2 separate regions of the Homo sapiens genome follow, and region 2 is linked to region 1. The links come from fine-mapping of genetic effects on gene expression. A gene starts in region 1. The other region holds a variant in brackets. All regions are shown on one strand. Distances are from middle to middle.

Region 1 (9,073 bases):
AGGAAACGAAAGTAGGGAGAGCAGGGCTTCACCTAACTCATAACTAGGGTGTCGGTGAAGACTTCCTGGAAGAGATAATAAAGCCAACATTTGAAAAACATGTAAGTTTTCCAGGTTCAGTGTGGGGGATGGTTGCAGGCACAGGGAGCAGCATAGGCAAAGAACTGAGGAATATTCCTGGAAGCAGCAGTGAGTCAGCATGGCTTGGGGGTAAGGGAGAGAAGGAATGTACGGGAGATAAGGCTGGAGAAGTGTGTAGGGGTCAGATCACAAGGTGCTTGCAAAGCTTTACTAAAGATTAGGGACTAGATTCTGATGACCTGGCAAGCCACTGGGTCACTGACAAGCATTTAAATACAGACAGTAGCATAGTTAGTTAGCCCTTGGTTTAGAAAAGTTCCCTCTAGTAAAAATAAAGAGTAAATAAAATGAGGGCAATCCTAGAGATAGGAGGACTGGTTAAGGGGCTCTGAGACTAATCCAGATTAACAGTAAGAAAGACCAGGCCTACTTCTGTCTTCCCAGCACTGGCTCTGCTGCTCCATTTCCCACCCCCAGCTAATGTCCCTGACTTTCACATCAATAATTTTCCCTTAAGGTAGGGTTGTTTCCTATATCACACAGGTGTCCTCTCTTCCCAACCTGCAACCTTCCTCTAAGGGATGATTGGCTAGAGTTGGAGGCAGGCCAGGTCCAACTGTGTCTTCGCCAGTGCATCCCTCACCTGGATGACTGGTGTGTGTGGAGAGGCAGGATGAGGTCCTAGGTAGGCTCTGAAGAAAGGGAAATGGCCATACTGACTCATCAGAAGTCTCAGCGTTCGGTTAAAGTTTAAGGAAGTCCATTTACCAGAGATGCGCCAGCCTCCAAGCTTTAAAGGAGAGAGAGGGGGCTGAGCATAAGGATCCGTGGAGCCCATCCCCCATTGTCTGGATCGGCTCTTACACAGCTGCTACTGCCTGACCTCTGCCCTGCGCCCTTCGATTCCTCTAGGAAGCCACATCTATCCTTTTTTATCTGCCTTCTCCCAAGGTCCTGATACTTTCATAGGGCATAACCATTTCCATCTCCATCTCCCTCCTAGAAATTGGGGGGCCCTAGGAAGAAGACCCACCCTCTAGAAAAAAAAATGGCAGCCCTAAGCATGCATTGGTCCCATATGTTATGTATCCAGAAAAGTTAATATCCCAACTTTTCTCACCTCCTCAATAACTTGTCTGAGGGGACCAGTCCCTGCAGCTTCAATGGCAAGTGTATCCATGCAGGAGTTGTAGAACTGGAAGGCTTTCTCCTCCCCAGAGCCTGGGTGCCAGGAATTCTGGACCTCTAGAAAGGAAGCATGGGAGTGAGGACTAAACTCTGATTTTTTTTATCTTGCCCCAAATTCCTATCAAAGGGGTCTGGGGAGTCATGCCCTATATCATAAGTTCTCATCAGATGGGTTTTATTTAACCCATGTAACATGATTTACTTTCTAACCTGATTCTGGCATAACATTACGAGACAAAGAAGAAAACAAAAATATTTTACCCCAAAACATGTTTCTTTGCCACATTTTGAAATGGCCCTGCAAAGCTGTTCTTTGTGGAGGAAAATTTGCATCTGTAAAGCATCTCTATTAGCTATTAACATATCTCATTAACATAGCTAGATCTTTTGATTAACTAAGATCTGAATAGGAAACATTTGTCACCTATTGTCTCTAAGGGCAGCCACTATAAGACTTCAAAAGAACTTCGGTCTCCGCAATCTTTATCTTACCCTGAACATTCCCTTTCTATCTATCCCAGATCTTTAGACAAACTCAAGCAACTGTCAATCCGGAAATGTTTAAATTCACCTGTACCCTGGAAGCCACCCCCACCCCTTTGAGTTGTTCCACCTTTCTGGACCAAACCAATGTATTTCTTAAATGTATTTGATTGATGTCTCATGACTCTCTAAAATGTATAAAACCAAGCTGTGCCCCAGCCACCTTGGGCACATGTTCTCAGGATCTCCTGAGGACTGTATCATGGGCCATGGTCACTCATATTTGGCTCAAAATAAATCTTTTCAAATATTTTACAGAGTTTGACTCTTTTTGTCGGCAGGAGAATTAAAGGAGTGGCAACTGGTATAGAGGCAAAGAGGGAGGGTGGGAGACAGGGAGCTTACAGGAAAGAAAGACTCCCACAGAATATGGAAGGAGGGGGAGGAATAGAGATGAGGAAAATAAGAAAGATGAGAGGACTGCCCAATTTGGAATGGATCAACTTGATGAAATGATGAAAGCAGGGAAAGAGAATGAGGAGAAGAAGACAATATGGAAAATAAAAGAAATGTGGGGAAGAAACCAAGAAGGAAAAGACAGGGAAGAAAGGAGAAAGGTAGCAATAAGTGGGATATGGGCAAAGGAGAAAAGAGAGAAATGAAAGACAAAAGAAATGATTGAAGAAATTAGACAAATTCAGGGAACTAGAGAACTTTAAGGATTTGGAGAGAAGAAAACTCATAAGGAAAGGTTTAGCAAAGAGAAGAAACAGGGGAAGACTCTTCTAGTCCAGACTCCTCATCCATTGATCCCAGGAAACAAACACACTACAATAATCAAATGCAAGTCTCTCTGAATCATCCACCCTCTAATATCTAACACTCTTTTCACCCTCAGTCCCCCTGATATCTATTCATCCCATTGTAGGCAATATAATTTATCCTGAGCATATTTTTTCTTTTTATCTCTGTGCCTTCCCTGAAAGTATCCATTTACCCAAAGAGAGGCCCCCTCCCACTCTTTCCCCATCAAAAAAAGAGGGCAGAGGGGTGCATTTACTTTTCCCAGATTCTAATTGATAGTGTCAACACATTCTTTAGGTTCCCTTGCACTGGAAATGCATGTCTATCTTATATGTTCTTATTCCCAAATCCTCACCACCATCCACCAACTTCCTGGGACGCACTTCCAACCTCCTACTCAGTTTCAGCTCATCCTTCTGGTTTTCCTCTCAGTCCTGGCAGTTTTCCTCTCCAGCCTCCATCTGCAGGAACTTTACTTCCACTGCCAATTAACTCAGCTCTCCTCTTCTTCCAGCATATCCTTTGTACTTACCCACTTTTTCTCTTATGCACAGTGATGAAGCCCTCTCTCACTTCTCACCCCACCATCCTACCCCTTTCATTCCACCATCATCCATCATCTCCAATCATCCATCTCTAACATCCCACTTGTTCCAGGTCAACTTGCTTGCCATGGTTCAAGGTTTCAATGGAGAAGCAAGAAGCAAGAGATCATTGTGAGAGAGGGGAGCTCCGGCATGGTGAGAGGGAGAGGGTAATGTTGACAAGGAGTCATTGGGAGACTGAGGTTTTGGAGGTTAGAGAATGAGAGTGATGGACAAAAGAATTGAAATGCAGGAGATGCTGAAGAGATGCTTGTGGAGGAAAACACCATGCATAGGATAGAAACTGAACATTTGGAGGAAGCAACAAAGATGGAGCTTGCTAAAAGGGACAAGTTGGAGAGAATGGAGTAATTATGGATACATGGAGAAGCAAAGAAGATGGAAATTAGATAAAGAAAAAAATGCAGAAAGGGACCAAGAGAAACGGAAGAAGGGTACCCAAGGCAAGGCAACAGGAAACAGTGAGAGATGAGCAAACCCAGGCAGCTCCCGCCATCCTGCCTCTTTTACTCCCCCATCATCTCCAATCATCCACCCGTATAATCCCACCTGGGATGGTGCAAATCAGTTGTTCCACAACTACACAGGGTTTGGAGCAGTCATGGTCATTTTAGGCACAGAGTCACCCACTTGCACAGAGCATCTTCCACCCTGCTTTCCTCACCCAGTATTCTCCGAAGTCGGTTTTTGTTCTTTGTGGCAAGCTCCTGAAAAGAATTATTGGTCTCTTTGGCCCTTCCACAGGCAAAGCTGAAGAAGTCGGTGCAGGGGGCCACACTTGTGTTCCCAGAGGCCAGGTAATGATCCCGGAGATCCAAACACACAGATGTCTCACAGGGGCCTGTGGGGAAAAGCTCAGAGCTGGGAAAGAAGAGGCAAAAAGACAAGGGCTCCCCCAAGGGGCTAGGCAAAGAACATCAGGTGAGTAACTAAGTGGGGAGCTGATGAAAAAGAAATGGTTAGGATGCAGGGAGGAAGAAGAACCATGGGGACCCCAAGGGTCAGGGTGGGCAGAAGCCCCAGGAGCAGGGACTGGGCCTGGGCCCCAGGGCTGGGGGAGGGCTGACTAGGTTAGGGGGTCTGGGATCTTGCTTACGAGGGCCACAGTTCTGGAAGTTGTAGAACAAAAGCACAGAAAAACAAAGGAGCAGGCCCAAAATCAGGATAGCTGTCAGCACCCGCCTGGCCACTGCCCATGGCCTGCTCCCTTCCACGGGCAGCCTCTCTTCTGGAGTGCTCTGTGGGAGGAACCAAGAGGTGAAAGATACAAGATGGGGGTTGAGAGACAGGGATGGGAAGAAGAGGAGAGAGAATGAATCTGTTGGTGCTACAGTCCCTTTATACAGAAATAATTATCCCAATTCTTCCTAAACCCAGCCCTACTTTAACTCCTGGGAGATGAGAAAACAAGGAATGTCAACTGTTTTGGGTGAGGATGAAGCAGACAGTTAGTAGATGAGTGTTTGTGGGATTTTAGAGCCGAGAGTGACAACATCAGTGTATTCCAGACCCAGGAGAGGAGGCCACTTACCTCTTGGCTCCAGAGAGTTCCCATTCCACCTGCCTGGCTGCGTTCCCTCGGCTCTTCCTCACTTTGGTCCCCACCTTCCTGAAGTGAGTGGAGGGAGAAGGAGGAGAGAGAAGCTGGTTCAGGAAATGGTGCATTGAAGAGAGTTTTATCAGGCCATTTTGATACCCTCGCTGCCTGCCCTGCCCCCACACACATATTTTTATCTCGGAGCAGTGTTCCCAGATGGGCTTCAGAACGAACCTGTCCCCTGAATGTGCCATTTCTCGATCCCTCTCCCATTACCTCCCTCTCTCCCCACCTTTCTACTCTGTAAGCCTTACATTCCCTCCCCTCCAGTGGGGGCAGGACTTTTGCACACAGCCACCCTCACCCCTCCCCGCTAAGCCTCTGACTCCAAAAGGGGACTTACCATCTGTCTATCTTCTGTGGCTCCAGAATCCTTCCTGGTTCCACTCTAGGAGCTGATTCGGAGGACTGGGGTCCAGGAAACACCCCCCGCCCCAGTTCCTTGATCCTGGAGAAGGGGCACTTCTGCTGCTCTTTCGCCTTGTCCCCAGACACACAGGACTGGCCTCTGGGTGGAGCCTGCTTATCAGTGGGGGGCACCCAGGCTTCTCCTCCCCCTTTATCTCAGCTTCTCAGGGGAGAAGAGGGAGGGAGTCTTCACTCCCCAAGCAATCTTGCCCTTGGTCTGCTCCTTTTGTCTTGCACTGTGACTCTGCCCATGAAGTTCCTTTATTTCTAAAATATTCTTCCTTCTCTCATTTCTTCTGTATTAAAAAAAATATGAGGCACAGTAAAATTTTAAAGAGTTTATTTAAGTAAGAAGCAATTCATGAATTGGGGAGCACCAGACCGACAAAGGTTTAGTGTTGCGATGACAAAATGTCAGAGGCAAGCATTTATTGGGAAGTTATAGAAGCAAAATGAAACATTATTTGCTTAGTTTGCAGTTACATAATTGCATTTTTTAGGTAACTTTTTGGAAAGTCCCTAGTCACATAATCATATGTTAGTTGGCTGCTTATCATTGGCTGGGGTTAAGTTTTATTTGTTGTAAGCATTTATCAGAAATTGACCCAAGTTAAGTTTAATTTATGTTTGTAGTTTTAGCAAGAATATGGCTATTTTTAAGGTCTTTGGCTTTGTTTGCCTGGGAATTTTTCAGGCCCAGTCTCCATTTTAATTTTGTTTTCACACCTCTCTGATTGGCTTTTCTGGGATTCATCAATTCCCAGGTCAAATGCCACCTTTCCCAGGAGGCCTCCCAGCTCCATGCCCATTCACACTGTTCCCAAGCATGCTTAATTGTTTCTCTCGGTGTTTCATAGCTCTGCTGGCTGCTGGCAAAGTCATGCATTCAAAAGATCACCCAGCTAGGAGACCCTAATCTGCTAATTATTAGCTCTGTGACAATAAACAAGCCACTTAAACTCTGAGGCAGGTAAGCAAGTTTTGTCATCTGGAAAATGAGGGTAATACTTGCCTATGCCTACCTCATAGGATCTCATGCCTTCTACAAAAGAATAAGGCTTTACTGAGCCCCTCTTTCTTTCATTCTGCTTTCTGTTACACTGATAGCTTGCCTCTTCATCTCCTTAGTGATTGAAAACTATGTCATAGCATGTACAGTGTCTGGTTTTCATTCCTGCCCACCCAAGATGCTTTCTAAATGTTAATAGAAATGAATTGCATTCCAAGCCAGAAATCCTCTTTCTCACATCATATTAAGCCCTTACCTGTGGTCTGAGAGAGGCAAGCACATTTCTGGGGGAAGGTGTTTCAACTCTGTCCTTGTTTCCTCATCCCAGGAAAAAAATAATGTAATTTATTAGGTTAGTCTTGCAAATGATCCCCTGGCGATATTTCCAGATTCCATCAGCACTGTGCTAGGGCCATGGTGCACTTGCCAGGATGAGGGTGGGTGTGGAGAAGTGGAGTAAAGCCATTGTGCCCCCTGGGGCCAGCTGGTCGGGTATCATGAAAGTCATAAAGAAAAGTCAGAACTTCATACATTAGAAAAGAAAGCATTGGGAAAAATAAGGCTTTTGAGGAAAGGTGTGGCAAGATACAATAATATCTAAGAAACGCCGGTGTGGTATTGGGGATCTGGACTGATTGGATAAAAGACAAGAAACAGAGTGGTTAGTTTGGTGTTGCAGGAGTGATGAAGGGAGGGCCCGGCCCAAGGGGATGGCAGAGGGGAGGGAAGTGCGTAGAAAGAAAAATTGTATGGAATAAAGTCATGGCAATGGATTGAATGGAGGAGGGGTTTATGATAGAGCCACAGAGGAGCTCCAAGTTGCATTTCTGCATGACTAGGGGAATAGTGATGCCAGCGAACAATGGAATTTTGATTAAGGGGGGAGTAGGAATCAGAGTGAGGGGAAAAAGCTGACTCAGGATTCTAGAGGTGTTTGGTCTGTGTGGGTACACCCTGATGGTGCCTCCTCTTCAAACTTCCCTTCCACAGAAAGTCCAATACTCTCCCCATGGGCTTTTAGCTTCCTTCACACATATTCCCTTCCTCACTCCTTTTCTATCAATCAAAGCCCCTGAGCTGATGTTTCCCTAGGAAGATGATAATGGAGACCACTTAGATTTGATAAGAGAAAGTTGAAGATGGAGTGTGCTCTGTGACATTTGCCTATGGACAGCCACCACAGCCTGGACTTAGGTTCTCTCCCTGTCAGAGAAGCTGAGCCAGCCACAGGGATAGGGCAGCACAGCTGCCAGGTCCACCATTCCTACTCAGCCTCCTCCTGAAGGCCAAGCAACCTCCATCCTGGGAGCTGTCTCAGGAGCAGGACTTCTTCTTATCACCCATATCCTACTCCATGGTGAGTCATCACCAGCACAGCCATACCCAGTCACGGGAGTGCAGCAGCCTTCACTCAGATCTAAGCCCCGAGAAGAGGTGTGTTAACAGCTGTGGCACATGGACCACATTTATCTTTTCGGATGCTGCCTCCTTCTTGCCCTCAATTGTCCTGTCTGTTTATTTTAATTCCAGGAGGTTTTGTTTCATGCCATAATAGTATCAAAATAAAATATTGGTAATAATAAAAATAACCACTTTTTACGGAGCACCTTCTTTGTGCTAGGAATGTGCTAAATGTTTTGCTTGTACATTTTCCTTCAGTCTTCACAGCAACTTTCTGAGGGAAATAACAGCTTTTATTTTCCCCATTTTATAGATGAGCGGTCAGAGAGATATGAAAGTACAGTGAACTTACTCAAAGTTACAAAATTAATAATTAGCAGAACCGAGAATTGAACCAAAGCCTTAACCATTGAGCCTCTCAGTCACTAAGTATCTGTTTTTTGGAAGTTTCTTCATAGTAAACATCTTCCTTCATCTAAACTCTTCTTTTTAAACTATGTTTCACTGCTTGGCCTTGTGAGGTGACAGTTTTGGGGACTAGTATTCTCAAACTCTCTAACATCCAGTTTCATCATCTGAAGATCATGGCCTTTGCCACAATGTTCTATCCATAATCAGCTGCCATCTACAGTGGATGTGGTATCAAAATCAAGGACAGGACATTAATCTGTCTATTGTGACACTCTCAAGTGTGCACATGACTGGCAATTTGCTTCTAAGATCACTCGATTGCAGTGATAGCCACTAAGAAGCTACCCCCTAAAGAACAATAAACCCAGTTCTGAGTGAACCGAAGTAAGCCTTGACATCACAAGCAATGTTGAGGACTTTGCCCAGAAGATGATGGAGAAACAGATCATGGGGGGCAGGTTTTGGGGTGCACTGATTGCTCTTTCAAAGGAAGCAATACTTGAGAATTGGGGAGCTCCTTTGGGAAAGAGTAGCTTGTAAGTTCAGTATACCACAAAGTGGCTTTTGAAATAATTTAAGTGATAAGTAGATGGACCTCTTTCAATATGTGTGTGTGTGTGTGTGTGTGTGTGTGTGTGTATATATATAAATATATATTTATATTATATATATTATATATATATTTATATTTATATTATATATATTATATATATATTTATATTATATATATATTATATATATTATATATGTAATACATATTATACATATAATATATATAATATATATATATATTTTTTTGAGACTGAGTCTCGCCCTGTCAGCAGGCTGGAGTGCAGTGGCGTGATCTTGGCTCACTGCAACCTCCGCCTCCTGGGTTCAAGCGGTTCTCCTGCCTCAGCCTCCCGAGTAGCTGGGACTGCAGGTGCACGCCACCATGTCCAGCTAATTTTTGTATTTTTAGTAGAGACGGGGTTTCACCATGTTTGCTAGGATGGTCTCGATCTCTTGGCCTTGGCCTCCCAAAGTGTTGGGATTACAGGCATGAGCCACTGCACCTGGTCCAATATTTTCATTTTTATATACATT
Region 2 (9,073 bases), 330 kb after region 1:
TCCTATTCATGCCTCTTCCACTCCACTCTTCTGTGTCAAATTGTGACTTGACAGCCTTTCCTTCTACCGTTTATCTGTAGGATATTGGGAGTGTGTGGCATGCATCCTCATCATCAGGAAACTCTAAAAAAGAACCGAGTGGTGCTAGCCAAACAGCTGTTGTTGAGCGAATTGTTAGAACATCTTCTGGAGAAGGACATCATCACCTTGGAAATGAGGGAGCTCATCCAGGTATCTGGAGGCAAAAGAGAGAAGATAAATTGATCATGGGGTGGGAATAGAGCATGACAAAATATGGAAAGGGTGTCGTATCTTTCTTCCTTTTTTTTTTTTTTTTTTTTGAGACAGAGTCTCTGTCTCCCAGGCTGGAGTACAATGGCGCGATCTTGGCTCACTGCAGCCTCTGCCTCCCAGGTTCAAGTGATTCTCCTGCCTCAGCCTCCCAAGTAGCTGGGACTACAGGCAGGTGCCACCATGCCTGGCTAATTTTTTGGATTTTTAGTAGAGACAGGGTTTCACTGTGTTAGCCAGGAGGGTGTCGATCTCCTGACCTCATGATCCACCTGCCTCGGCCTCCCAAAGTGCTGGGATTACAGGTGTGAGCCACCACACCCAGCTGGATGTTGTACCTTTCTAAAGAAATGGAAATGCCCTTCTACCGTAGAGCATTTGAGAGAAATGATATATAACTCAAGAATAACAGAAAGGACTTCACCCATACATACACTTTTCCTGTAAAAAGAATTCTTGGATGAGGACACTACTAGGAAGCTCATGTGGAGAAATAGAATTATAGCTAGAGAAGTAAATATGATTTCATGTTTTATTCTTGTGTCTTAGGCCAAAGTGGGCAGTTTCAGCCAGAATGTGGAACTCCTCAACTTGCTGCCTAAGAGGGGTCCCCAAGCTTTTGATGCCTTCTGTGAAGCACTGAGGGAGACCAAGCAAGGCCACCTGGAGGATATGTTGCTCACCACCCTTTCTGGGCTTCAGCATGTACTCCCACCGGTATGAAGCTTTAGTAATATGGGGTGTTGGGAAGGGTTAGTTTGACTGGAAAGGAATTTGTAAGTCAGAGTGAGGGAGACTAGATTTTGTTGTATTTGGACCGGACCACTTCCCTAAGGTCTGTCATCATGAGTTTTGATTTCTTACAGTTGAGCTGTGACTACGACTTGAGTCTCCCTTTTCCGGTGTGTGAGTCCTGTCCCCTTTACAAGAAGCTCCGCCTGTCGACAGGTGAGAATTGATGGACTAAAAGGGGTCCCAGGCCAGGTGCCACGGCTTACGCCTATAATCCCAGCACTTTGCGGGGCCAAGGCGGGTGGATCACCTGAGGTCAGGAGTTCGAGACCAGCCTGGCCAACATGGTGAAACCCCGTCTCTACTAAAAATATAAAAACTAGCTGGGCATGGTGGTGGGTGCCTGTAATCCCAGCTACTCGGGAAGCTGGGGCAGGAGAATTGCTAGAACCCAGGAGACGGAGGTTGCAGTGAGCCAACACGGTGCCACCGCACTCCAGCCTTGCCAACAGAGTGAGACTCAGTCTCAAAAAATAAAATAAAATAAAATAAAAAGGAGGGGGGTGTCCCAGATTGACTTCCCCTTTCTTGTCTGGTATCTGGCTTTGTCCTAACATGAGCCCTTTTTTTTGTTTTTTTTTTTTTTTGTTGTGTTTTTTTTCAGAAATAGGGTCTTGTTCTGTCACCCAGGCTGGAATGCAGTGACACCACCATAGCTCACTGCAGCGTTGAACTCCTGGGTTGAAGGGCTCCTCCTGCCTCAGCCTCCCAAGTACCTGGGATTACAGGTGCATGCCACCACACCTAGCTCATTTTTAAATTTTTTGTAGAGAAGGAGTCTCACTTTGTTACCCAGGCTGGTGTCAAACTTCTGGCCTCAAATGATCCTTCCGCCTTGGCCTCCCAAAGTGCTGGGATTATAGGCGTAAGCCACCATGCCCAGCTGAGACATAGTTTATATTGGGAACAGTTGTCAGTAAATTTGTTAAGGGCTAGTAGGACAGTTTATGCAGGAGTTTGTGGTTTTTTGTTTTTTTTTTTTCTTGTGATGGAGTCTTGCTCTGTCGTCCAGGCTGTAGTGCAATGGTGCAGTCTCGGCTCACTGCAAACTCTGCCTCCTGGGTTCAAGTGATTCTCCTGCCTCAGCCTCCTGAGTAGCTAGGATTACAGGTGCGTGCCACCATACCCAGCTAATTTTTTGTGTTTTTAGTAAGAGATGGGGTTTCACCATCTCCTGACCTCGTGATCTGCCTGCCTCGGCCTCCCAAAGTGTTGGGATTACAGGCATGAGTCACTGCGCCCGGCCCAGGCAAGGTGTTATTAATAGTTGGTCCATTTCCCTTCCACCCCAGATAACAGTTTTTGTGATAATTGGGCCTTTGAGTAGCATGTATGGGCAGGAAGTTCATGCTCAATTGGCCTCTAAAAAGCTGAATAAGAAAAGACTACATTTGGGGCCACCAGCCTGCTGATGGAGCATCCTAGTGATTGGAACGAGGCTTTTATCAGCTAGCCCATTCGGTCATTCAGCCAGTTGAGCATATGCTTCATGCAGGCTATGTGCAGAGAATCCTTTAGTGAGCTAAAACTAAGAGTCTCTGCCCTCATGAAGCTTACAGGTTTGGGTAGTGAGTGAGACCAATATTTATCACAACCCAGTTGCAAGAGATGTCTGAAGTTACAATGACATATTAAGATTGATGGTTAAGTTATATACTAGTTTTTTGGTTTTCTGTCTATACCACAGATACTGTGGAACACTCCCTAGACAATAAAGATGGTCCTGTCTGCCTTCAGGTGAAGCCTTGCACTCCTGAATTTTATCAAACACACTTCCAGCTGGTGAGTTTTTGCATAATGACAAGAGGAAGAGAGTTGGGAAATTAGACACCCTTCCTGGGAACCTGAACTTAGTTTGCATGTACATTTCCTTTCTGCCTTATTAGTCAGAAAGTTGTTACTGGTTAAATGCCTTCTGTGAGCATTTGTCTATTTTTACCTGCTGGAGGTTAAGAAGAAAAATACGATGTCTTTGTTTTCTTGAAATGTCTAATCTAGCCGAGGAATCATCTGTTATCAAGACGCTCATGGTCTAACTGGCCTCTCCTCCACAGGCATATAGGTTGCAGTCTCGGCCTCGTGGCCTAGCACTGGTGTTGAGCAATGTGCACTTCACTGGAGAGAAAGAACTGGAATTTCGCTCTGGAGGGGATGTGGACCACAGTACTCTAGTCACCCTCTTCAAGCTTTTGGGCTATGACGTCCATGTTCTATGTGACCAGACTGCACAGGTACCTGAGGTGGGAAAAATTGACATGTAAATTAGAGGACTGAACAACACTTTGGGACCAGAGACATCGTTTGTTCCTGTGCCTGCTGGGATATGTCTTAAAAGTTGGTTTATTCTACTTACATTTTTACTCACTCTGTTCTGCCTCTCACCTTGCATTCTAGTAAGAAAGAATTAGGGCCGGCCAGCCATTTTAGTGTTGACATCTCAGGTTGTGGTTTCATAAAGTAATAATAGTCCACAGTTGGTGTCTCACTTTTTTTTTTTTTTTTAAAGACAGAGTTTAGCTCTGTCACCCAGGCTGGAGTGCAATGGCACGATCTCGGCTCACTGCAACCTCTGCCTACCAGGTTCAAGCGATTCTCCTGCCTCAGCTTCCTGAGTAGCTGGAACTGCAGGCGCATGCAACCATACCTGGCTTATTGTTGTATTTTTAGTAGAGACGGGGTTTTGCC[A/G]TGTTGGCCAGGCTGGTCTCAAACTCCTGACCTCAGGTGATCCGTCCCCCTCGGCCTCCCAAAGTGCTGGGATTATAGGCATGAGCTACGGCACCTGGCTGGGAAAGTATTCTTAACATTTGTGTAATCACAAGTCATAGGGTAGATTGTTTGTGGACCAGATTTCTAGAAATTGTAAACATTTTCATTATGGGCTGTTCGTCATTAACCTCAGTTACTGTACTGCACAACTGACTTTGTGACCTTTAGGGTTTCTATTTTGCAATCAATAATGGCCTATTTGTAGATTCATATTCACTCTTTATTTTGATTCCAGAATAGTAGAACTTTCTTCAACTTGCTTTGAGGTTGTCAGTGGTGAAATTAAAATTGCTAGGAGATTCACTTTGATCTGTTGGGATAGAGGATCTTTGTTTTCCATTCAGCATTGTCTGTAGTCTTCATTTCTCTTTCTTAGCTGCCCTCCTTCTGTGAGAGTAATTATGTATTTACTATATTTTTGGCAAGGCCAGTTTCATCCACAGGTACCTGGGTGTTGTCCTTTACATGCTATTTTTGCCAGCTTCCCCCTTGTAGCATATGCAATGTAGTTAAATCCACCCTTGCTTCAAAGCCATGGCAGCAACAGCTGCTTCAGTCATCAAGTATTCAGGTAGTTTATATGCTTTCCTGAGAAGTCTGCTGGGCATAAAGGGGCAAAGGGCAGGGTACCAGCCATAATTCCTACAGAAGGTCACTTAACAAAATGTGCAGTGTGTGTGTTTTCTTAGAGGTTTTGGTCTAGCCATGTCTTTTACTAGAAATCTATTATGTCATGGTTTTTCAAGTTGTATGCAGCTGATAAAGGATCTTACATGTCTAATAGTTAAAGATAAAATACTGAGTCACTAAGTCAACTATATATACTGCTGTTTTCTCAGAGACTGTCAGATTTGGTGAGTTTATGAGCTCACTTCATAAATAGCATTTCCATTTATGGTAAGCCTGATGCATATTCAGTGACCTATTGGATTCTAATTCTTTGGTTGAATTGCTCTGTAACTGGAATTGCAGTAGAGTTGAACTTCAAGCACCTTATAATGGGGGACTATGTGAGCTGCCACAGATTTTAAAGATCAGATGAGGGAGTTTTGACATCAGCATAAAAGGAAGTGTGTCCTCTTATATTCCTAACGACCAAACAAGATTAGAGAAAAAATCTTCTGTCATAGCTAAGAAGAAGAAGCGCCTAGGTAGATATGATCAGAAGGATAAGTGGAGGAGGCAGAACTTAAGCTGGCCTTGAAGGATAGAAGTTACTGAAGCAGAGAGGAGTGGTGAAGCCACCCTAGGCAGGGAGAACAGTATGTGGACAAGAAATGTGTGTGTTATAAACCAGGTAGTTGCAATGGGTGTCATAATTTGGTACACTGGGCATCTGCACAGAATGCTCTCTTCCTGGTGGGATCTCCCTAGAGAGTCAACTCGTTTATCATATAGCTATTTGGCAAGCAAAGAAACAGAACCAAAAAAAAAAAAAAGATCCTTTTTTCTTTCCCTATCAAATCTTTCTTACTTAAGAGAGGAATTCCATTTAAAAACAGGAAATAGTATAATTAGTCTTAGAGACTCCTCTTCCCCTGATAGTGCTGCAGTGAACATGGGTATTCTCACTGCCCAGATGTTTTCACTTTTCTCTTTGTTATTAAGTTTTTATTGCATCTACTTCATGAGGTTACTAGTTCTAGAATTATGATTTACCCTATGTTAGGAAACGTACTCTTCAAAGTGGAAATTTCCTTTTACCATGTGGTATTGTTTTTTTAGCTTGCATTTGGGTCACAAACTGCTTTGAAAATGTAAGGACAAGCTATGGGTTATCCCTGGAAAATGCAGCTGCCCATATAATTTAGCATATAATTTCAGAGGGTTCACAAGTTACTCTCTTCACATGTCCCCCAACCCCTAGCCAAAAATACACTTAGGAGTTAAGAACCCTGCTATTTATAGAAGTACTGTAATTTTATCAAAAACAAATCTGCAGATCCTATTTTAAGCTATGCTACTTGTAGAAAAATTCCTCCAAATGTCTAATCCCCATTTATTGAATGGTTTAGTCTTACTAAGTTTGGTTACAAAGTGCGTGTATTCTTTTTTTGGACATTGTTTTCTATTTACTGACCTAATCTCACTAAATTCAAAATGCTCGTGATTCGGTGCCCAGGTATATAATTTTTGTTTTCTTTTTTTTTATTTTGAGATGGAGTTTCACTTTTGTTGCCCAGGCTAGAGTGCAATGGCGCGATCTGGGCTCATTGCAACCTCTGCCTCCCAGGTTCAAGCAATTCTCCTGTCTCAGCCTCCTGAGTAGCTGGGATTACAGGCGCATGCCACCACGCCCGGCTAATTTTTGTATTTTTAGTAGAGACAGGGTTTCATCACATTGGTCAGGCTGGTCTCAAACTCCTGACCTCAGGTGATCCACCCGCCTCGGCCTCCCGAAGTGCTGGGATTACAGGCGTGAGCCACCGCGCCCGGCCTTTGTTTTCTTCTTTGAGCAAAATTAACTTCTTTAACTATTAAATGTTAAATTCTATTAGCATCAGCTCCAGAGGAACATTCACAGTTATGTATTCTCTTGAAATTATATATTCTTGAAAGAATTTTTTGATTATCTGTCATTACCTTAAGATTTCTATTATTATGGTTTGCTTCTACTTAGAAAATACAGATACTTTTCAACAACACCAGTCTCTTTATTTCTAGTTATATTGCAGACTTTCAAATATTTTATGTAATTGCATCTCAATTATCTACAAACAGAAGTATTCCGAACAGATCAATTAGTAGCTCTCAAACTTTAACATATCACAGTGTCCTGGAGGGCTTGTTAAAACACATTTTGCTGGAGCCCAAGATTTCACGTTTCTTCCAAGTTCCTGGGTGATGCTGCTGTTGCTGCTTTAGGGGCCACTCTGAGAACTACTGCAATATGTTATATTATAGAAGTGTGCTTTTTATTTTGGCAGTGTGTGTGATTAAATATATGTGTGTTTTAACTCTTCCACCCAGATAACTTACTTATTTTCATTACATTTTATTCAAGTTTATAATAAAATGAACTTGTTTTCTTTCTGCCCATCTCAGAAGACCCAGACATCGTGAATTATAGAGGGAGGCATAGGTTTAAACATGTGTGCCCAATTATTATGCTCTTTAGGTACACAGTATAACCTTCTGATGGATGGACCAAATGCTTAAGGTAGTGCTCTTCATGTATCGCAACTTAGTGCAAGATAAACAAGATTCTCCAGGCATGGTGGCACATGCCTATGGTCCCAGCTACTCTAGAGGCTGAGGCAAGAAGATTCCTTGAGCCCAGGAGTTCTAGGCTGTAGTGTGCTATGCTGATCAGGTGTCCAAACTAAGTTCATCATCAATATGGTAACCTCCTGGGAGTGGCGGACCACCAGGTTGCCTAAGGAGGGGTGTACCAGCCCAGGTCAGAAATGGAGCAGGTGAAAACTCCTGTGCTGATCAGTAGTGATCTTACACCTGTAAATAGTCACTGCACTCAAGCCTGGGCAATATAGCAAGATCCTGTCTAAAAAAAAAAAAGATAAACAGGAAAACAGTTCTTAAGTTGGACTACAACATTGACCAGTAATAGATTTCTTTGAGAAAAATACTCTTTATTCGACATGCACATTGTAATGGCACATTTTTTGCAATGTGTCCCAGACACAGTGATCGGTTTTTGGTTTTTTTTTTGAGACAGGGTCTCTCTCTGTCACCCAGGCTACAGTGCAGTGGTGCAGTCACAGCTCACTGCAGCCTCAACTTCCTAGGCTCCAGTGATCCCTCCACCGTAGCCTTTAGAGTAGCTGGGACTATAAGCATGCACCACCATGCCTGGCTAATTTTTTTTTTTAAAGATGGAGTCTTGCTAGGTTGTCCAGGCCAAGTCCTTTGTCATAATATCTCATTTTTATCTTCACAAACTTAGAGAAAATATCCTCATAATTTTTTTTTATAAAGTGAAAAGTGAGGTCTCAAGGGTCTGAGTAAGCTGTTCCAACTCATGAAGCCAAGGTTCAAACCTAGATTAATCTGAACCCAGGACCTGTGTATGTAATTACTGCCCTGTACAGAATCCTCCTTCATAGCGTGCTCTTTCTGAAACAAAGCATTTTATACAGTCATCATCATTATCTCTTGGACACTTAGAATCTTAGAAGACAACATACAAGTATTGCTATTCTCTACTATCATGATGCTGTCACAGAACAGTTTATTTTCGTGTAGCTGAATGTGCATGTTACTTATTCATAGCTACACTTTGAGTCACCCTTGTGCCATTTATATACAAGGGCAGTTGCTCTAATGAAGGATCTGGTTATGAACAGGGAATTAATCAGAGTTGACCAGCTCATGATTAGCTTCTTTAGTAACTTGCTTTAATCCAGGAGCTGTTTGCCTATCTCAGTGAGTCTGAATCTGTATTCAGAATATTGTGTCTGAACTCATATGCATTTTTCTGGTGAGTCCATAGCTTTCTTTAGTCTCTCAAAAGGTCTCTTCTTTTATCATTGACCACAGGAATATACATAAAGCGTTTTATCTTCTAATAGCTTAGGGTTTCAAAAAGAAACCAAACTTTGATGCTTATGTTGGTGCTGACCTTAGTGCACAACACTAAACATTCCTTTCTTTTAGGAAATGCAAGAGAAACTGCAGAATTTTGCACAGTTACCTGCACACCGAGTCACGGACTCCTGCATCGTGGCACTCCTCTCGCATGGTGTGGAGGGCGCCATCTATGGTGTGGATGGGAAACTGCTCCAGGTGCGGATACCCTGGTGGAAGCCAACTGTTGAAACCAGGCTGCTTTACCTCCTGCCTGCTGTCTGTCAAGTGATGGCTACTGTTGCATGTGTAGGACTTAGGAGGCCCCGCTGAATGCTTAACCTCTCTTCTTCCTTCTTTCTTTCTGGCAGCTCCAAGAGGTTTTTCAGCTCTTTGACAACGCCAACTGCCCAAGCCTACAGAACAAACCAAAAATGTTCTTCATCCAGGCCTGCCGTGGAGGTGAGTGCCCTAGCAGACCAGCACCTGGGTGGTGGCTCCTGGGCAGCCTCCCACCAGCTCTCACTTTCCTGTTTGCTCCTCTCAGGTGCTATTGGATCCCTTGGGCACCTCCTTCTGTTCACTGCTGCCACCGCCTCTCTTGCTCTGTAAGTGTCTCCCAATGCATGGGGTGTGCTGGGACTTGGGCAGCCCATGGCTCTCAGGCTGGTCAGCTCTCCGTGCACCACCATATCCTGTT

Alleles and levels. Positions count from the first base shown, and alleles are read on the strand shown. Sizes are in standard deviations (SD) of each study's normalised expression.
With allele A in place of G in region 2, the expression in lung of the gene that starts at base 5,261 in region 1 is lower (large effect, 0.94 SD a copy in GTEx).

What was found. PIP is the estimated chance that this variant, and not a neighbour inherited with it, causes the effect.
Region 2: its variant is fine-mapped to the expression of KEL in lung (GTEx, PIP 0.92).

What each region holds. Positions count from the first base shown.
Region 1 is chr7:142,957,103-142,966,175 of GRCh38, forward strand. It overlaps KEL (Kell metallo-endopeptidase (Kell blood group)), which reads right to left and starts at 5,261. Exons shown (of 19, transcript NM_000420.3): 1 at 5,102-5,261; 2 at 4,693-4,770; 3 at 4,258-4,399; 4 at 3,826-4,002; 5 at 1,202-1,326; 6 at 725-871. The coding sequence starts at 5,104. RefSeq lists an enhancer at 676-1,391, a silencer at 5,025-5,220 and a cis regulatory region at 7,343-7,744.
Region 2 is chr7:143,291,460-143,300,532 of GRCh38, forward strand. CASP2 (caspase 2) reads left to right here. Exons shown (of 11, transcript NM_032982.4): 2 at 81-231; 3 at 841-1,008; 4 at 1,158-1,239; 5 at 2,771-2,865; 6 at 3,138-3,314; 7 at 8,464-8,592; 8 at 8,745-8,835. It also overlaps the pseudogene RN7SL481P. Among named protein-coding and RNA genes, the nearest start is that of CASP2, 7.6 kb to the left of the region's middle. The variant A/G (reference allele first, on the strand shown) is at 3,769.